2 separate regions of the Homo sapiens genome follow, and region 2 is linked to region 1. Evidence: fine-mapped expression QTL. Tissue or cell type: tibial nerve. Region 1 holds a variant in brackets; the other region holds the start of a gene. All regions are shown on one strand. Distances are between the middles of the regions.

The links.
Region 2: it holds the start of IPCEF1, and the variant in region 1 is fine-mapped to the expression of IPCEF1 in tibial nerve (GTEx, PIP above 0.99). The same link has a PIP of 0.9 or more in esophagus muscle, pancreas, sigmoid colon, sun-exposed skin and unexposed skin.

What each region holds. Positions count from the first base shown.
Region 1 is chr6:154,402,459-154,413,432 of GRCh38, reverse strand. CNKSR3 (CNKSR family member 3) reads left to right here. Exons shown (of 13, transcript NM_173515.4): 11 at 2,291-2,499; 12 at 3,001-3,090; 13 at 6,781-10,974. The coding sequence ends at 7,079. Among named protein-coding and RNA genes, the nearest start is that of IPCEF1, 51 kb to the right of the region's middle. The variant G/A (reference allele first, on the strand shown) is at 6,742.
Region 2 is chr6:154,351,333-154,362,306 of GRCh38, reverse strand. IPCEF1 (interaction protein for cytohesin exchange factors 1) reads left to right here and starts at 5,504. Exons shown (of 12, transcript NM_001130700.2): 1 at 5,504-5,635. It overlaps LOC105378067 (a long non-coding RNA gene), which reads left to right. Exons shown (of 3, transcript XR_007059823.1): 2 at 1-229; 3 at 643-2,414.

The DNA of each region.
Region 1 (10,974 bases):
ATAGTGAGGCCCCATCTCTACAAAAAATTTAAAAAATTAGCTGGGTGTGGTTGTGTGCACCCGTGGTCCTAGCTACTCAGGAGGCTGAGGTGGTAGGATCACTGGAGCCCAGGAGGTCGAGGCTGCAGTACAATACACCATGATCATACCACTGCACTCCAGCCTGGACAACAGAGTGAGACCTAGTCTCAAAAACAAAAAAACAAAAAACAGAAAAACTCAGACCTTGTGAGTGTAGGTATGAACATTTCATATTTGTGTGTGTGTGTGTGTGTGTGTGTGTGTGTGTGTGTACCATAAATTCTTAAAAAGATAGTTGCTTTCTTCATGGCTAACTTGAATACTGTATGGTATAATGAGGGTGGTATATAGAGTGTACAGGATGATTTAGGTGTGATCTAGGCTTATTTTTATCAACTCACATATTTATATATGTTGATAAAACTAGACAATCTGGCTCATTTATTCAGCATATCTTTCCTGAGTATTGGGTCTGGGTTACCCTCTGACACAAAACAGACTCGGTCTTTGACCCTACAGAACTGCCAGGGTCTTATTCAACAATTCAAGCATATATTGAGAAATATATGATTAGGTTATAATATTTCATAAAACAAAGTTCAGGCTGGATTTTATTACAGTGACATTTTACTTTCTATCAGAATTTTTTGTTTGTTGGTTTTCATTTGAAGCTGAGGTATTTGCTTCATTGTATTTCTTCTGCATTGGGTGCAGAGATTCAACATTGTTTTCCATTTCCTTGAGTCTTGGCTTACTCAGAACTTATTATAGCGTGTAGAGAATGTACCTCAGGTGATCGGGGCATTCTGGTTTGCAGGATCTTAAGTGTGTTTAAAGTTACAGGTAGTCTTTCCCTCTGCATATAGAGAGCATGACATTCCACTACTAATGTGTGGATTGTTCTATCAGAAACTGGAGGAAGGCACCCTCCCTTGATCCAGAATATTCTTGTCTGGGTTCCTGGAGTAGTGGCAAGAAAAGGGGTGCTGTGTACATAGTGAGAGATAAAGGAACCTGGGGCTAGGAGGAGAGCTGGATTAAACTGCTCGGGAAGACGCTTTTGAGAGTGCACACACACCACTCATGAAGGATTTTCTGAGGAATGAAAAATGGGAATGGATTACTGAGAAACAAGTCATGAGTCATGAAAGCTTTGTGAATGGGGAGTTATATGCCCGGTTTAAAGGTATGGAAGGAGATATATTTGTGGGTGGGAGGGGTAGGTGGATGCCATCCCACCTGGGAATACCACACACAGACATGGCTGATTAGTAGATTGCTTTGGGACTCAGTTGATTCTGTATTTTGTCTAGCAGTTTTTGTCCTGATTTGCCTAATGGAATTTACCAAGTGCAAAAAAACTAAGCAGCTGGTAACTTGGACTCAAATTAATCCTACAGTTTAAACTGACATGTAGATAGAATTAGAATGGAATCAGTGATCCAACTTTTGCTGGTTTTTGTAGTATTTGATTCAGAAAAGAATCACTCTCCATTGGTTACTATAAAGGTTCCTTTGTATCTTTTGACATGGTTTTCAAATCTAACAACTTCATAATATATCAAGTCTTTTTTGCTGGATTTTGGCAGAGATCCGACTCTTGGCATGAGCAACGTGGTTCGCTAGAGCATACCTTAATGTGTGATTGCTGTAGTAAATAGGATATTCAGCTACACACAGAAGCACAGGAAAACTAGAGCTGTCTTTTCAAAGCTATATTTGTTTGGATATTAAAAAAAACCCTGCATTTACTCTTCTTTTTTTTTTTTTTTTTTTTTGAGATGGAGTCTCGCTCCATTGCCCAGGCTGGAGTGCAGTGGCATGATCTCAGCTCACTGTAACCTCCGCCTCCTGGGTTCAAGCACTTCTCCTGCCTCAGTCTCCCAAGTAGCTCCTGCCACCACACCTGGCTAATTTTTGTATTTTTAGTAGAGATGGGGTTTCACCTTGTTTGTCAGGCTGGTCTTGAACTCCTGACCTCAGGTGATCCACCTGCCTTGGCCTCCCAAAGTGCTGGGATTACAGGCGGGAGCCGCTGTGTCCGGCCTGCATTTATTCTTATTTCATCACGTCATGGTATTTTGCTTATTTAATAGGATCTGTATGTATTTGAGCGGCAACTGGGGTTGACAAAAGGAATGCTTTTCCTCCAGTGGAAAAGGAGAATTTAAATTATCTTCTGTGTGCTGGAGGTAGCAGCACTGCTGGAATTCTTCAGTATGAGAACATCTTTGTAAACAACTTAATTATTGTCCATATTATCTTCCAGGGATGAGAATGGCAGTTTTGTTTATGGAGGGTCCAGTAAGTGCAAACAACCATTGCCTGGTCCTAAGGGTTCAGAGTCCCCGAATTCCTTCTTGGACCAGGAAAGCCGGAGACGAAGATTCACCATTGCAGACTCGGATCAGTTGCCTGGGTACTCGGTGGAAACCAACATTCTGCCCACAAAAATGAGAGAGAAAACACCATCTTATGGTAAGTTTCAAGTGTTTGTTTTGTTCTGCCGTTGGCCTTGACTTCTCCTCCCCGCCCCCTGCCTTAGTTGGAACTGTTGGATGAATTTGGCAGACTTCAAGAGTAATCTGAGGAAAACATAAACCTCAATGAAATTCTAAGTATGAGACCTTTATTCATCTCTGTCAAGCGGATCCTTGTTGAGTCATTACTCTGCCTGGCATGAAAGCCCAACTGGGTGAGATCATGTTACAGTTTTAACTTTCAGTGCCTGGGTTTTAGCTTTGGAGTTGCTTTGCTCTGTAGACTCACAGGCTCAAGTTTAATGTGCCTCTATCTTAGTAGCACTCTATTTCCTGCTATGGAAATACAGTGCTTTAAAATACTTTTATTTTAAAATTTGTTATTGCTTCTGTCTAAGTGGGTGTGGTATTGTGAGGTCTAAGTTATACATAAAGGGAACGGTTCACTAAAGTTCCAGAACTCATCAAACTTGTCACCTTCTTTCTCGTCCCTCTGAAGGCAAGCCACGGCCTTTGTCCATGCCTGCTGATGGGAACTGGATGGGGATTGTGGACCCTTTTGCCAGACCTCGAGGTCATGGCAGGAAAGGTACGTTTCATCCAAGCAAACCAAGGAACAGCAAATGGGGAGTGAACAGCCCCAGGGCCTGGTTTCACCTCTGTTTCTAAATGTGTTATAATAAGTAGACTGAGTACTTGGCCTTTCTGAGTCCCGTTTTCTCATCTGTAAAATTAGGACTGCTGAAGATCTTTAAGATCCTACTTATTTCTAGAATGGCAAAATTATATAATCCTAGTTAGTGATTGTAAATATCCTAATTAGCATTGAGTGCTGTAAAAAGGCTATAGACTTTAATGGTCTAATTTTTATTCATTTACTTTTTAGAGACAGGATCTTGCTCTGTTACACAGGCTGGAGTGCAGTGGCGTGATCATACCTCACTACAGCCTTGAGCTCCTGGACTCAAGTGATCCTCCTGCCTCAGCCTCCTGAGTAGCAGGGACTACAGGTGCACGCCACCACGGCTGGCTAATTTTTTTTTTTTTTTTGGTAGAGACAGAGTCTCAATATGTTGTCCAGGCTGGTCTCAAACTCCTAGCTGTAAGTGGTCTTCCTGCCTCAGCCTCCCAAAGTGCTGGAATTACGGGGATGTGCCACCATACCCAGCCAATAGTCTAATTTTTTAATGAATAGAAATAAATTATTCATTAAACAATCTTTTTCAAAATTTATTTTTAAAAATTGAGATGGGGTCTTACTATGTTGCCCAGGCTGGCCTTGAACTCCTGGGTTCAAGTGATCCTCCCACTTCAGCTTCCTGAATAGCTGGTGTTACAGACGTGTGCCACCATGCCCAGCTTTCATTAAACAATCTTATTCTAAATTTTGTTGCTTTTATTTTTGGAGTCTGTTTGATTTCTGATGAACAAACATGGATTTTTTTTTCTTCCAAGTCCTTCTTATGTTAGAAGGCAGTTACTATTTGAAAAGAAATTTGTGTTTAATTCACCCTGTAATCAAAGTCCCTGGTTATTATGCTGGTCTTGAGTGAAATGTTTTAAAACATTCTCATTTTATTGCCAGATTGCATTTGATTGTCATCATTGGCAGAACATTATAACATTGTTTTTGCAGTTGTTGAAACAAAGGGCAGTTGAAAAGTTAAAGTACAATAGGCTTTAGATAGTAAAAGGAAGAAGAAAAAATTCTGGAAGCCTAACCTTCCAAAGGGATTGATTGACCCCTGACCCTTTCTAGGGACTTGGTAAAGTTTGTCACCTAAGTACCCATATCACCTGTATTATGCTAAAGTGAAAAAGGGAAAGATGCCTGGGTACCTACCATTCAGGATCCCCTTAGTTAACGTGTGAGTATCCATGGAGCAGTCAGCAGGTGGCAGGGCTGTCCGTTGTTTAGATTTAGACACGTTAACATCTTCCTTGCCGTTCATCTGAGCCAGGGTTGAGCCTTTTATTTATTTTATACATGGAGAGATGAAGTGTCAGGGTTATGGGGTGTGAAATTGGGAAATGGAAAAATACTTGTTCCCTCCACTCCTCCTTGCATATTTTTCTTGCATGATTGTTTTGGAATAAAGGTATCTATCTATACACAGCCACTTAAAAAAATAACAGTTTTATTGAGATATAACTCTTTGCATGAAATTCAGCTTTTTAAAATATACAGTCAGGTGGGTTTTAGTATATTCACGGAGTTGTACCCCAGTTGCCACTATTCCAGAACATTTTTGTCACTCCAAAAAGAAACCTTGTGCCTTTTAGCAGTCACTCCCAATTCCGTCCTTCTTCAGCCCCTGACAGGCACTCATCTACTCTGTGGATTTGCCTGTTCTGGACATTTCATATAAATAGACTTATGCAACATGTGGCTTTTTGACAATGGGCACTTTTTCAATGTGACTGTTCCCCTTTCATTACAAAAGCAAAGCAAGTACATTGAAAAACATGGAAGGCATGAGAAAATAAAACTCAGCTGGAATCTGTTTCTCTGACCTAAGAAATAATCACTGTGAATGTTTCGTGTGATTTCCAGTTGTTCCTGTATTTACATTTATATACTTAGAAAAATGTGCAAAATGGGAGAAGTTGGCCAGGTGCGGTGGCTCACACCTGTAATCCCAGCACTTTGGGAGGCCAAGGCAGGCGGATCACGAGGTCAGCAGTTCGAGACCAGCCTGGCCAACATGGTGAAACCCCGTCTCTACTAAAAATACAAAAATTGGCCAGGTGTGGTGGTGGGCGCCTGTAGTCTCAGCTATTCGGGAGGCTGAGGCAGGAGAATCTCTTGAACCTGGGAGGCGGAGGTTTCAGTGAGCCCAGACCTCTCCATTGCACTCCAGCCTGGGCAACAGAGTGAGACTCCGTCTCAAAAAAAGGGGAGAAGTAAATATTCAATAATACTATGTAAAAATGAATATTATCTACACCATATTTGAAAAGAATATAGCCGTATTAGAATGCCATCTTATGGCTCTAGCGCCTATTTATTCAACGTGCCACTGTTGGAAATTTAGGTTTTTTTTTTTTTTTTTTTTTTTCAAATTCTAAAATTTGAAAAAGGCTAAAATTTTCTAAATTCTAAAATTTAGAAAACTTAGAATTTAGAAAATTTAGAAAATTCTAAAATTCAAATTCTAAAATTTGAAAAAGGTTTCAGTAGGCTAGGTGTGGTGGCTCATGCCTCTAATCCCAACACTTTGGGATGCTGAGGCAGGTGGATTGCTTGGTCTCAGGATTTCGAGACCGGCTGGGTGTGGTTGTGCGCACCTGTAGTCCCAGCTACTTGGGAGGCTGAGGTGGGAGGATCGCTTGAGCCTGGGAGATGGAGGCTGCAACTAGCTGAGATGGCACCACTGTACTCCAGCCTGAATGACAGTGAGACCCTGTCTCAAAAAATAAAAATAAGCATAAAAATAAATGTTTCAGTAAGCATCCGTGAGTCCATAGATCTTTGCACATTTTGGGGTGTAGAATTTCCGCTTCACAAGGATGCTACATGTTACCAAAGTGTACTGTATTTTAAGTTTCTATTCAGTTTCTTAACATTCCAGCCACATCCCAGGGGGTCTGCTGGCAGTTAGGGCAGGATCACTCTTTTCCTTGTTCGGGAATGTTCCTGAATGCCCAGCTTGAATGCCCTGCATTAAACAATGCATAAACAGTTCTGTTCAGCCATCGCGGGGACACTACACTCTATGGTCCCCACCCACTAAAGGAGACCCGTGTGCTACCTCTCAGGCGCTAAAGCAGCCTAAAGTATGAGGGACCCTTCCCATTTCTGCTTCCAGAGCACCCATTGGTGGGCCCAGCCACAGGTGGGACCTTGTGGCCAATCCAGGGAGGAGAGCAGTAAAGGTATGGTGCCCACATTCAGGGTGGTGGCAGAAGTCTGGGCAGGCCGAGGGCCCTCCAAAGAGCACTGTGTAGGGGATTGTGATTTTTTTTTTTTTTTCCTGGAGGGGACAGAGTCTCGCTCTGTCAACAGCCTGGAGTGCAGTGGCGCGATCTTGGCTCACTGCAACCTCCGCCTCTCGGGTTCAAACGTTTCTCTGAGTAGCTGGGACTACAGGCGCCCGCCACCACGCCAGCTAATTTTTGTATTTTCAGTAGAGACGGGGTTTCACCATGTTGGCCAGGATGGTCTAGATCTCTTGACCTCGTGATCCACCCACCTCGACCTCCCAAAGTGCGGAGATTACAGGTGTGAGCCACCACGCCC[G/A]GCTGGGATTGTGACTTAATGGACTTTGTCTGGAAACAGGGGAGGATGCCCTTTGCCGGTATTTCAGTAACGAGCGGATTCCTCCGATCATTGAAGAGAGCTCCTCTCCCCCATACCGGTTCTCCAGACCCACGACCGAGCGGCATCTGGTCCGGGGTGCGGACTACATCCGAGGAAGCAGGTGCTACATCAACTCAGATCTCCACAGCAGCGCCACGATTCCATTCCAGGAGGAAGGGACCAAAAAGAAATCTGGCTCCTCAGCTACGAAGTCCTCGTCCACAGAACCGTCCCTCCTGGTCAGCTGGTTTACGCGCCTCAAACTGTTGACTCACTGAGAGGGACCCTGCTCAGGCCACCTGCCTGGCTCCTGCCCCAAGTGCCTTGCTTTTACAGTGGACAGCCTCTTCTCGTTTCAGCCTCAGTATTATGTAGGGACCTTATGCAATTTCTTTTTCTTTTGAAAAGTTATCTACTGCCCTTCTTGGAAGTTTGCAGGATTGGATGGGAACAAATTCAGAGGATCTTAGGTGCTGGCTTGTGGAGACAAAAGGAGGGAAATGGGTAGAGCCTGTTTGTCTTGCTTCCCCAGAGATAGAATGTGAAGACACGCGCTAGAAATCGCAGTCCTGGCCAGAGACGTTATGGTCATTGTGAGGGACTGGTGGCATTGTTCCTTTTTGAGGGGCTGGGGGGACTCAAATTGGTGGCTGTTTTCACACAGATGTGTTGGTTTGTGGTCCAACTTCTTTATCTGAAAAAGCCAGTGAGAAAACATTTTTGATTTGATTTTTCTAAACTATCTACCATATTTTAAGTGTAGCAGCTTTGACTTTGCAATAACGTGGCAAGTATCTGATTTCTCCTTTGAGGCAGAGGTTTAAGTGTAGGCCTGTTACACTTGTTTGATACCTTTTTCATGACAGTCTCAGTATAGATCAGTTGGTACAGAAATACATGAACACATTTTGATAGGGCTTATTTCACACAAAGAAGTTTATGGTTATTTGTGTGGGGTGGTGTTGTTATATATTATTGTCTTTAAGGGAAAAGAAGCTATAAGATTCGCTGACAGCCAAAGTATCATTTAGAAAAGTGAAGCAACAAGATTTAGGTTGATGAAAGATACATGAGTTTGCATTTTGACCTGTTCAGTGTCTGTCTTCCAGCACGGTGTGTACACTTCTTCAAAATTGTACACAGTTTGCTAATTAGAAATATCTTGGAAAGCCTCATGGTCACTAATTTTCAACTAGCATCAGGTATTTTGAAAACGTGTGTCTGGATATTAACTCTTGTTTAAACTGAATGTATGATATTTTGTTAGAATGGAAAAGTACTATCTTGTTAATTTAAGTATTTTAAATATAGTTGTATATTTTTCTTACTCTTAGTCACCTGTAATTGAAATATTTCTGTTTTGCGTCATACACGAAGCTAGTGAAAAAGAAAGTGCAAGGCATTTTCAGATGAGCAAGTGACTATCGTGGCTGTTGCCAGCAGGGCAGTATTGTTAAAAAAAATCAAAATAAACCCTCCCAAGCATTTTGGGATTTTATGGATTAGAAATGGAAGAACAGGAGAAGCATATGCAAAGTGAAATTGCACGAGGGGAATTTTCTGAGGTATCTTCCTAGGCAGAGCCGAAATCTCCTACTCCAAAATGCCCTTTCTCATACCACCGGAATTGTTGAGTTTGCTGAACTGCCTGGAATTCAGCCCATGAAAATCACTGGAGTTAGGAAACATCTTCCCTTTAAAATGCTTCTGGTGTGGTTAAAGGAACTAGCAACCACTCATGTATAATTACTGTGACTGAATTCAGTCAGGCTGGTTTTTTTTGTTTGTTTGTTTGTTTTTGAGATGGAGTCTCAATCTGTCACCCAGGCTGGAGTGCAGTGGCGCAATCTCAGCTCACTGCAACCTCCACCTTCCAGGTTCAAGCGATTCTCCTGCCTCAGCCTCCCATGTAGCTGGGATTATAGGTGCCCGCCACCATGCCTGGCTAATTTTTGTATTTTTAGTGGAGACGGGGTTTCACTACGTTGGCCAGGCTGGTCTCAAACTCCCAACCTCAACTGATCTGCCGGCCTCAGCCTCCCAAAGTGCTGGGATTACAGGCATGAGCCACCACACCCGGCTCAGTCTGGCTGTTTTCTTCTCTACCTCTAAGACAACTGCCATGAAGATCTGGTATTTCGGCCTGGCGCAGTGGCTCATGCCTGTAATTCCAGAACTTTGGGGGGCCAAGGTGGGTGGATTACCTGGGGTCAGGAGTTCAAGACCAGCCTGGCCAACATGGTGAAACCCTGTCTCTACTAAAAATCAGCTTCGCATGGTGGTGGGCACCTGTAGTCCCAGCTACTCGGGAGGCTGAGGCAGGAGAATCACTTGAACCCTGGAGGCGGAGGTTGTAGTGAGCCAAGATCAGGCCACTGCACTCCAGCCTGGGTGACAGAAGGAGACTCTGTCTCAAAAAAAAAACAAAAAGAAAAAGATCTGGTATTTCATGGAGACATGGAGACCCAAGGGTGTTTGGCAGATGGAGAGAAGAGGCTTGCAGTGTGTGACCACAGGGTGTTCAACACACTAGGAGGGTGGGGTGTGGGCTGGGGAGGTCTCGTGTAGGGCACTGGTGATGAGGAGGGAGCTGTGTACGAGGGGCGAGCCAGCCCTGCCTGTTTTACTCTTGTCTTGAGCTGGCTTTATGCCCAGGAAGTGGGTGGCAACATCTCCTCTTACTCCCCAGATTGTGGGGAGAACTCTAAGAGCTGTAGTTCCACTGGATGATGAGTTAAATCACTCTGGAGGCCTTAGCTGGCTGGTGAGCTCTTTTTCTGTGGGGAAAATGCCACTTGTGAATTGAACAGCCATCCTTTAAGTGAATATTCGGCAGTCAGTCTTCATTATAGGCAGTGGCCAACCAGATTGGTGCTTTTCAGCCTTTGTTCCCTGGAGTCCCAGGACCCGCGAGAGAAGTTCCTGGCTCCTCTACTTGCAGTCACCCTCCACAGCTTCATCTTTCTTTTTATTTGAGGTTTTCTCCTGAATTGTGTTTGAAAAATATATTGCTGCTAAAAAAAAAAAACCTTTGTAAACCTCTACTATGGACATACATAAATAATAGTTTAATATGGATTTCTTAGAAATTAATGGAAACTGCTTGCCTCAGTAGTAATCCAGGTTTAATTGTGGACGTGTGTTCACATATGAAGTTGCTTGATGATGCTTTTTGACAGGATTCTTTATTTTTATTTCTTTAAAAAAAATTTTTTTTTTTTTCTGAGACAGATTCTCACTCTGTCACCCAGGCTAGAGTGCAGTGGTACAATCTCAACTCACTGCAGCCTCTGCCTCCCAGGTTCAGGCAATTCTCCTGCCTCAGCCTCCCAAGTAGCTGGGATTACAGGTGCCCGCCACCACACCTGGCTAATTTTTGTATTTTTAGTAGAGATGGAGTTTCACCATGTTGGCCAGGCTGATCTTGAACTCCTTGACAGGATACTTTACAAGAGTGATTGTTAAAACTCTCCCAGACACAACTCAACACCTACCCCTATTATAATATTTTATAGCATCACTTTTCAATCTTCAAATGAAAATCATGGATGATGAAGCTTACCTTCACTCATAAAAACATCACTCCATTTACTATTCTGAAATGAAACTAGCAGGTAATATAACTAGCCTCTAAAACATACCCATCAGTGACGTTCTAACTGAAACAGATAAGATATTTTATAATGAAATAATTATTTTCATATGTACATATTCTAGCATGGTTATATTACAAGATGTAATTAAACTACTAAGCAGGGCACATACTTTGTATGTGTGTGTATAAATATAAATATGTGAAAAATCACCATGAATGTGGTAGTTACCAATTCAGACCTGCTGCATTGGCAGTTCAATACCAGGAAAGGGGTCGATGTCAGCAGTATGATTTTCTAAAATGTGGCCAATTCTTTAGATAAAGTTCTAGGCATACCTAGTCTGTAATGGCTTCACTCATATAGTGCTTGCTGTGTGCCTGGCATTGTTCTAATACCTTTCTAATAAATCTATGAGGTGAGTACTGCTGTTAGTCCCGTTTTGCATATGAGGGAGTTACCCAGGTTATGTGCTAGTCATCCTGGTTATGTGCTAATAATGGCAGAGCTGGGATTAAAATGAAAGCAGCCTGGCTCTGGCTTTCTTGCTCATAATCACTCAGTATATAGGCTTCCTTCC
Region 2 (10,974 bases), 51 kb after region 1:
CTCTGTGATTCCATTTTCCCCTGAATACTTTGCTTTTGGAAACTTTTCCTCTCTTACCGAGCTCCATGCTGATGTTTGCTGTGTGGTTCAGCTGCCTGATTCCCATCCAAGGATTTCCCTTTGCAACGCTCCCAGGTTGAGTCTTCTGTTTCCCGGATTCCACCACTTCCATTTTTTAGTTTACTCCCTTATTTTGCTGGGGTCCATCATCAAGTAACTTCCTAAGAAGGTATGTGGAGGCTGGGTGCAGTGGCTCATGCCTGTAATCCCAGCACTTTGGGAGGCCGAGATGGGGGGATCACTAAAGGTTGGGAGTGCGAGACCAGCCTGGCTAACATGGTAATACCCTGTCTCTACTAAAAATACAAAAATTAGCCAGGCGTGATGGCAGGCGCCTGTAATCTCAGCTACTTGGGAGGCTGAGGCAGGAGAATCGCTGAACCTGGGGGGCAAAGGTTGCAGTGAGGTGAGATCATGCCACTGCACTCCAGCCTGGGCAACAGAGCAAGACTCTGTCTCAAAAAATAAAAATTAAAAAAAAAAAAAGAAAGGATTTGTGGGCAGTCAGCCTTCTGAGTCAGCTCTGATATATCTGAAAACGGGCATGTTCTACCTTCACACCTAATTGATGGTTTCATTCAGGGATCAGCAACCTACTTTCCACGGGCCGCTTTTGGCTTGCTGCCTATTTTTGCACAGCTGGTAAGTTATGACAGTTTTTTACATTTTTAGGTGCTTAAAAAAATCAAAAGAAGAAGATTTTGTGATGCGTGAAAATTATAGGCAGTTCAAATGTTAGTGGCCCTAGATAAAGTTTTATTAGAGCACAGCTGCTCTTTTACATGTTATCTATGGCTGCTTTGATACCACAATGGCAGGGTTGAGTAATTGAACAGAGATTGGCCCACGAAATCTAAAATATTTACTATCTGGCCTGTTCCAGAAATAGTTTGTCAGCTCCTGGTTTAGTTGGTCAGAGTCAAAAACCCAAGTTCTCACAACGATCCCCATAGGACCTAACCATAATCATGGGTTCCCCGGCTCCCCTCTCCATCTCTGACCCGCTCTGCTCTGTTCCAGCCACACCTGCCCCCATGCTGTTCCTGCGGCACCAAAAGGCTCTGGGGGTGGCAGGATGTTTGCATTTGGGGCTCTGTCTGCGGATTTCTCTTCCCTTAGCTGTCTACACAGCTCACGCCTTCACTTCCTCCAGGCTGTCACTCAGAGGTCACCTTTGTGAGTCCTTTGCTGGCCTCCCCATCTAATTTTTAGCCTCTCCTTAGACTCTATATATTTCCTCTGCTGATTTATTTTTCCTCCTTAGCACTTACTTCTACCTAACACATTATATTTTACTTTCTTTGTTTGTGTAGAGAGTACACCATCCTGATCTGAGCATGAGAAAAGAAGTTCCCTGAGGGCAGGACTTTATTTGGTTCACTGCTGCGTCCTCACTGCCTAGACACAGTGCTCAAAAATATTTGCTGAATGCTATGGCTAGGCTTTGTGTCCCCACCCAAACCTCGTCTTGAATTGTAATCCCCATAATCTCCATGTGTCAAGGGAGACACCAGGTAGAGGAAATTGAATCATGGGGGTGGTTTCCCCCATGCTGTTCTTGTGAGAGTGAGTTCTCATGAGATCTGATGGTTTTATAAGGGGCTCTTACCCCATTACTCAGCACTTCTCTTTCCTGCCACCTTGTGAAGAAGGCGCCTTGCTTCCCTTCACCTTCCACTGTGATTGTAAGTTTCCTGAGGCCTCCCTAGCCATGCTGAATTAAACCTCTTTAATTTATAAGAGTCAATTAAACCTCTTTCCTTTAGAAATTACCCAGTCTCTGGCAGTTCTTTATGGCAGTATGAAAATGGACTAATACACTGGATGAATGAACACAAAATTCTAGAGTGAAATATAAATCCTTCAGAACTTTGAAGGCTGTGCTCGCTGACCTTCTAACCCTTAATGCTACTTCTGTGAAATCTGGAGCCCTTTGATTCCTTGTTTCTGTGAAAGTGACTTATTTTCTGTGTTTGGGAGATTTTAAGATTTTCTCTTTATTTCCGGAGTTTGGAAATTTTGCAGTGACTTGAAATTCTTCATCCTAGGCACTCGATGAGACTTTTTAATCTAAATATTCTTGGACTTCAGGGGGATCCTTTATGTTATTTCTTTGACTATGTCATCAAATAATATTTCCTGAAAATTTCACTTGAATTTATCACCCAACCTATCAAAATCTTTATTTAACAATTATATTTGCAATATCCAAGGGGTCTTTCTTGTTTTCAGATTATCTATCTTTCTTAGCATCCTGTTCTTTTTAATGGATACAATATCTTCAGGACTGTCTCTAAGGATACTGATTAGAAGCATATCTAGGCCAGGCGTGGTGACTCATGCCTGTAATCCCATCACTTTGGGAGGCCAAGGTGCACAGATCACCTGAGGTCAGGAGTTTGAGACCAGTCTGGCCGGCATGGTGAAACACTGTCTCTACTAAAAATACAAAACATAGCTGGGTGTGGTGGCACATATCTGTAATCCTGGCTACTCAGGAGGCTGAGGCAGGAGAATCACTTGAACCCTGGAGGCGGAGGTTGCAGTGAGCCGAGATAATTAATGCCACTGCACTCCAGCCTGGGTGACAGAGCAAGACTCTGTCTCAAAAAAAAAAAAAAAAAAAAAAGCACATCATCCATCATCCAGCACATGCTAGATGAGGCTCTTATTGCCAGAATGTGGAGTTCTGACTGTGGAGTGCTCATATCCACATACAATGCCTGTATTCTCTGCATGATTTCACTATGTGTAGAGACGAATCCTCGGTATGCTGCCCGGGGTTGGAATTGTGTGTGTTTGCTGTGCAGAGGCTGGGCGGACAGAGAGATTTGAAAGAGGGGTATGGGAGGGGCTGAGTTCTTACAGACTTTGAATTACTCTTCCTGTTTTCAGTCCTGTCACCCTATCACTCATTTAGCTCTCTTAGCTTCTTTTGGCTTGAGTTCCGGTCCTCTCAGGGATTCAGCACCGCACACGGGCAATTTCCTCCAACGCCGTGTTCTCCTAACTAATGAGATATTGTGGTTCCCCTGCCTGCCTCCATCTGTTATTGCTCCTCCATCGGCTTTCAGGCTGCCAGAAATCTGTTGTGCTCTCCCAAGTTCTGATGCTTTTCCTCCTTTTTTGGGTTATTGTGGGTTTATATCTTTTTTTTTCTTTTGAGACGGAATCTCGCTCTGTCACCCAGGCTGGAGTGCAGTGGCGCGATCTCAGGTCACTGCAACCTCCGCCTCCCAGGTTCAAACGATTCTCCTGCCTCAGCCTTCTGAGAAGCTGGGATTACAGGCTCGTGCCACCAGGCGTGGCTAATTTTTTGTATTTTTAGTAGAGACAGGTTTCACCATGTTAGCCAGGATGGTCTCGATCTCCTGACCTCATGATCTGCCAGCCTGGGGCTCCCAAAGTGTTGGGATTACAGGTGTGAGCCACCGTGCCCGGCCCTATAAACTTTTTATACTTTTCTCATTTTAACGGAGTCTTTGGGGAGGGAGGGAGCAAATCTGTGGTCAGCCCGTCATCTTGAACTGACAGTCCGGCCGTTTTGAGGATTATTCTAATTCTACAAATCATCTTTGCTCAAAGAATTTAAGTGGCTCTATTCTGGCCCCATAAAGGTAAATAACATGTCTTTTGAGGATATCTTTGATGATGGCATCTAAATGTCTGGTGAGAAGCCAGGCCATGCTGTTGATACCACTAAATTCCTTTAATATCACCTAGTACCATTTTTTTTTCTACGTAAAGCAGGGAACTAGAAGACAACTCAATATAGGGAGAAGATGAGGCAGCACTTCCAGAAATAGAAGTGTACACAAACAAGAAGCCGCTGAGAGAACCTTCATTTTGTTCCTGCTCAAAATGTACAGCATCTTCTTTCATTTTTTCACTCCTCCACAGATTTAGTTTACATTTTATCTTTGTCTTAGTCATTCAGGCTGTTATATCAAAACACCGTAGCCTGGGTGGCTTACAAACAAAAGACATTTATTTCTCACAGTTCTGGAGGCTGGACATCCAAGATCAAGGCGCCAGCAGATTCATTGTCTGGTGAGGACCTGCTTCCTCGTTCCTAGGTGACTGTCTTCTGGCCATGTCCTCATATGGTGGAGGGGTGGGCAGATCTCCAGGTTCTCTTTAATAAGAAAATTAATACCATTCATGAGGGCACTGTCCTCATGACCTAATCACTCCCCAAAGGTCCACCTCTAAATACAATCACATTGGGGATTAGGTTTCTATATATTCTATATATTCTATATATATATATATATATATATATATATATTTTATATATATATTATATATATATATTTTATATATATATTATATATATATATTTTATATATATATTATATATATATATTTTATATATATATATATTTTATATATATATTTTATATATATATTATATATATTATATATATTTTATATATATATTATATATATTATATATATTTTATATATATAATATATATATTTTATATATTATATATATATAATATATATAATATATATATTATATATATAATATATATATAATATATATATTATATATAATATATATATAATATATATATAATATATATATTATATATATATATTATATATATATATACACATACATATTTATTTATTTATTTATTTTGAGTTGGAGTCTTGCTCTGTCTCCTAGTCTGGAGTTCAGTGGTGCGATCTCGGCTCACTGCAACCTCTGCCTCCCAGGTTCAAGCAATTCTCCTGCCTCAGCCTCCTGAGTGGTTGGGATTACAGGCATCTGCCACCACGCCCAGCTGTATTCATTTCCCTAGAAGGTATAGAGAAACAAGAAGCTGGTGTTGAAAGGGAGATTGGGAGGGCAGGAATTTGTAATGAGATGGAATATCTCTGACTTTCAGCCTGCCATTTTCCTTTTCCAATGTGGGAAAGAAAAGTTTTGTGGTTAGAGACTCTTCTATGTCTACTGCAAAAGATGGCAGGCTAAGACTTATTTTTATCCTAAAATACGTTTTACAAATGTGTCTGTACCCTCTCTTTATTAGAGCATTATGAACGATTAGGAAAGGAGGAAAGAGGGAAATCTGAAAGAAGATTGAACCTAAAGAGGTTGAAGTGGCATTTCACCCAAAAATGCTGAGAATGACTCTGCAGATCATCTCACCCTCCATGCCTGTAAATGAACATCCTTGCCTCCAAAACAGGAAAGCAGAACCATGAACTGTTCCACCAATGTGCTCGGCAAATGAATACACTGGGCAGTGCTTAGTGATCAATGAACTCAGGCAGATGGGGTGTGCTTGCCTTACATGTACTGTGTCCTGGATATGGGCATCAAGGAAGGGTTTCATAACAATGAGAAGGAAGAACGTTAGGATTGAGGAAGTGGAGATGATACTTCCTCTTCTTTCGAAAGAGCTTTACTCTCTGATCAGCTTTGAATGTTAGTTCTGGGTTGACTGAGTTTCCAGAGCTGAGGCTGCTTTAAGTAGAATCCTCAAGCTTGGCCTCAGAGTACTATGAGGCTTCTGAATCCAGGAATAAGACTGCTCTTGGATTTACTCTCTTTGTATTGCATGTAAGTAACGTCACTTCTTGGCTGATGTATGAGAGGTAACTGCTTGACAGATCAAGATGGCAAAGCAATGGATACCCTAGCACTCTCCTTAGAGTAGTGAGGTAGGAAATATGACTTTGGGGATGTAATATTCACTCAGCTCTCTGTAATCTGGGAAGCCAGGTGCTAAAGATTCTTTAATTCTGTGAAAGCTTTGAAAGAGGAGAGAGTTGTGTACTCACTCTGCTTTTATGTTTCTTAAATGGGTGTTGTCTTGATAGGTGTTTAGACTGCAGACCACAGGTTTGATTTAGAAAAGCACAATTCAGCATGTATTTGGGTCCTGAGGAGTTCATTTGGGGAAGCACTCTGGGGCCGCCCTCTTTCGAGAAAGTGTGTTCTTTGCAAGGGAGCTTCCTTTGCATGGAGGCAGCTGGGGGACATTTTACACTTTGATAAAGGTCTCAGGCTTGCCAAAATATCTCTGGTATAAAAATGAAAGCTAGGTGTTGTTGGTTCAGAGTCTTTTAGTAAGGGTGTCTGGGGCACTTGATTTTTCTTTGCTGGGGTATATGTGAAAGTATTTAATTATAGAAGTCAGAATTATAACCCACTGAAGCATCTTTGACTACAGCAGTGGGCTCTATTAGTCTTGAGTGGCCTATGTGTTCCTAGTGCTGTCCTTGATAAAGTCTAATTTCTATCGAGTTATTTATTTTATGTAGAAAATTGAAACCGAGGGCTGGGCACAATGGCTCACACCTGTAATCCCAGTACTTTGGGTGACCACGGCGAGAGGATCACTTGAGGTCAGGAGTTTGAGACCAGCCTGGGGGCAAAATAATGAGACCTCATCTCTACAGGAAGAAAAAAAAAAAGAAAGAAAAGAAAATAGAAAATAGAATGCCGGGTGCGGTGGCTCACGCTTGTAATCCCAGCACTTTGGGAGCCCAAGGCGGGTGGATCATCTGAGGTCAGGAGTTCGAGACCAGCCTGGCCAACATGATGAAACCCCGTCTCTACTAAAAATACAAAAATTAACTGGGCGTGGGAGCATGCACCTGTAATCCCAGCTACCTGGGAAGCTGAGGCAGGAGAATTGCTTGAACCCGGGAAGCGGAGGTTGCAGTGAGCTGAGATTGCGCCACTGCACTTCAGCCTGGGTGACAGAGCAAGAGTTCATCTCAAAAAAAAAAAAGAAAGAAAGAAAGAAAAGAAACAGAAATGGAAAGAACACACATTTCTTTCTGCTCACATCATGCAAGCAAGGAAGAAAAGGGTGTAAGTTTGTGTATGTGTTGATGAACTCATTCTTTAATTTACCTTATAATTTCCTTCCATTCCTCTTTTTATAAATCAAGTGTCTTTTCTGGAGTGGGTCCATGTATGAACTATTTCAGGCAAGCTGTGTTAAGCAAATATACATCATCAGAGTATGGAAATAGGAAGTTCTTTCCTGCGGTAGTTTGCTGTGGCAATAAGAGATAAGAAATTACTTCATCACTATTGCCTGAGACTTTCCTTTTGACTCGTGCATCCTTTTGAACAGCTCACTTCTGCTTTCCATCCAGCTTGGAGGCTCTGCAGTGTGAGCTGATAATTGCAGTACAGGTTAACAATTTGCAAGTAGGTCTAATGTGGCAAATGGTGTGTGTGTGTGTGTGTGTGTGTGTGTGTGTGTGTGTGTGTGTGTGTGAAGAAAAATCCTAAAAAATAAGCTTTTTAGCCTTAAAGAGAATCCTGCAAATGGAGGAGTTACTTGTGCTCCCAAGTGCTCAGAACAGTGCCTGCTCTCAGTAAATATTTGTTGAATGAATGAATAACTGGCATAATTCATAAAATGAATGTGGTAGGAAAGCCATTGCTTTATCTCTGTTACTCAGGCACTTTAAAAAGTGAATGTTAGAAAAGATCAGAGTGGAGGAGGAGAGGAGAATATGAAGGTGTGGAGTAAAGAAAGGGTGTGTAGAACGGGGATCAGAAAAATCCCCAGGTCAGTAAAGTGAAAGGGTTGGCGATACATGGTGGTGGAGGTGGAGGTGGAGATAAAGGGGGTGGTGTTGGAAGTGGTGGTCGTAGGGGAGGTGATGGTGGAAGTGACGGTGGAGATGGTAGAGGTGGTTGTGGAGGCGATGGTGGAGGTGGTAATGGAGATGGTAGAAATGGTGATTGGAGTGGTAGAGGTGATGGTGGAAGTGACGGTAGAGATGGTGGAGGTGGTTGTGGAGGAGATGGTGGAGGTGGTGGTGGAGGAGATGGTGGAGGTGGTGGTGGAGGTGGTGGTGGAGATGGTGGTTGGAGGTGACGGTGGAGGTGACAGATGGTAGAAGTGATGGTAGACATGGTGGAGATGGTTGAGGAAGTGATGGTAGAGGTGATGGTACAGATGGCGGAGATGGTGGTTGGAGGTGATGGTAGTAGAGGTAATGGTGGAGGTAATCATGGGAAGGTCAGTATAATTTAGCCAAGAGAAAACACAGTTGGGGGCTCAGACATATCTGTTCAAAATCTATATCTCTGAACCTACCAGCTCTGTGACCTCCGAACCTATAAAGTGGTGACTATAACATATTGACTTTTTGGGTTGTTGTGTGAGGGTTAAAAATATGATTGCATTAAATGGCAGTTATCGATATCAGTTTTCAAGTTGCCAGAGCCACGCTTAAAAATTTAATCTCTAATTTCTCTTTTTTTCTTTATGCTTTGTGCATTTTCTGAATTTTGTAAAGTGAAAGTGAGTTTTTAAAAGAATCATTAATTTAAAATAAATATGATAAGCCTAGTTATCAGAATGGTTGAACACATGGTGGTATATAAAGAAATGTCATCAAGAAAATGATATTTATGGAAATAGTCTCATGATGTAATGCTAAGTCCAAAAAGGAGGAACATAACTTTTTCAACTATGTAAAAATACTGCAGAGAAGCAAGATTTGGGTGAAATGCATTAAAATGTTAATATATGAGTAGTGGGCTTATAGCTCGTGGTTCTTCTTTCTTTGTACTTTGTACTCTATTTTCTTCCCAGATTTTTCATTAGTGGAACATACCTGAACTATTTTAATAATCTGAAAATAAAACAAACGTTGAAAGAAAGTAAATAGGCCCGGGTGCGGTGGCTCTCATGCCTGTAATCCCAGGACTTTGGGAGGCCAAGGCGGGCGGATCACCTGAGGTCAGGAGTTCCAAACCACTCTGGCCAACATGGCGAAACCCTGTTTCTACCAAAAATACAAAAATTAGCTGGGCATGGTGCGGGCGCACGTAATCCCAGCTACTCAAGAGGCTGAGGCACAAGAACCACTTGAATCCGGGAGGCGCAGTGAGCCGAGATCACGCAGCTGCACTCCAGCCTGGGCAATGAGGGAGACTTCATCTCAAAAAAAAAAAAAAAAAAAAGGAAAAGGAAAAGAAAAGAAATGGACAAAAATGTAACCCTCCTTAAATCTTCCACCAACAGGACGACAAAAGCAATGTTTTAGTGATAGTGTGCTGAAGTTCATGGTTCATTGCAGTCTAAGAAATGACACTTAAAATTTATGTTATTTAGTCTTTGTAGGGAAATCCCCTTTGAGAGTAAGGCTGGTGCAGAATCATGTGTCAACTCTGAAGTGAGAAAAAGGAAACGTGGTCCCACTGGGGCTGGCTGGTCTGATTAATTCCTAGAATGACATGAAAATGGGTTATTTTCTCTGGATGACTTATAACTGCGTCTAAACCTGAGTTTGATGATTTCCTAAAAAATGCAATAGTCAATTTGTCAGTTATTAATTATAAGTTAAATTTAAATCTCCCAATATAATTGTTAATACATTTCTTAGGGAATGTTGCCATATGTTTATCATCTTGGTACTCATAGGGAGAGGTCATAAAAACATTTCTATAGAGTCACAGATTATTTTATAGATTCAAGAATTATCATTCCTGTTGTTAGAATCTTGGCCCTGCCGTCTCACAGGGCCAGCAGGTCACCATGGAGTCCCTTATCAGGGACGTAACCAAAATAAAATATTTTGGCTTGTAGGCATTGAAAAGAATCTTCTGTCTTTGTCTTAGAATCAATCTTTGTCTTAGAAAGGAGAGATAGTCGGCAGACAAAAAGGCAAAGGGCTGAACAAATGTGAGCAAAGACAGGTCTCCCAGACTGACACAGGGATTGACATAGAAGCAGCTGAAAGGTGAAAAGTGAGCCAGCTTAAACTCAGCCCAAAGTTACTAGAATGTGGATGAGTCTTTCAAAAGAAGTCTGAATAAAAAAATGACCAGATCGTCAAGGAAAACTAAGTCAAGTTAGAAATGAAAGAATTAATTGAAGAAACAAAAACCCAGCATGCACTAAGCATTGAAATAGAAACAGCAGCAAGATAGGATTCCCAACAGATTCTATAGCATTTTCTGAATATTTCATACGTGGAATGCTGAATAAAAAACCAATGATATTACTGAGCACTTGCTAGGTTCTAGACACTGTGATCTGCACTTTTATTTTTACCTTTTAGTTTACATTTACATTTAGTTACATTTACAATTTCTTTTTTTTTTTCTTCAACTTTTACTTTACGTTCCAGTGTGCATGTGCAGGATATGCAGGTTTGTTACATAGGTAAATGTGTGCCATGGTGGTTTGCTGCATAGATCAACTCATCACCTAGGTGTGAAGCCCAGCATCCATTAGCTTATTCTTCCTGATGCTCTCCCTCTCCCCCGGCCCTCACAGGCCTCAGTGTGTGTTTTTCCGCTCCCTATGTCCATGTGTTCTCATTGTTCAGCTCCCACTTGTAAGTGAGAACATGCGGTATTTGGTTTCTTGTTCCTGCGTTAGTTTGCTGAGGATAATGGCTTCCAGCTCCATCCATGTCCCTGCAAAGGACATGATCTTGTTCCTTTTTATGCTATTTAAGCCACTTCTTAAAACAGTTCTGGGAAATAGTACTATTGTTATCTCCATGAAATTGAAGCTTAGAGAGGTAAAGTCCCCTGCCTCAAACCACCACAATAGGCAGGGGAGAGGGATTCAAACCCAGACCTTTGTGTCTCTGAGCCTGTGGTCTACCATTCTACACATTACATTGTTTTCATTTATGTTAAAGGTTTTGTTATATAAATAGTGATTTGACACCAAGGGCGAGTCTGAGCAGAGCAGATTTGCTCTCTACTTTAAAATCGCCCAAGTGAAATTCTTTTCTATTCCTTAGTGAAGAGATAGTGGAAAGGAGTTGTTCTTTTTTCCAGGAAACTGCCTGTGCCTTGACATGATTGCACATCCGTGATTGTCTTCTTAGGCAGTCAGGTGGTACCACGTAGGAAATGCTTCCAGCCAGCAGGGAACAAAAGGGGACTGGGGGGACCTCAGAACCATT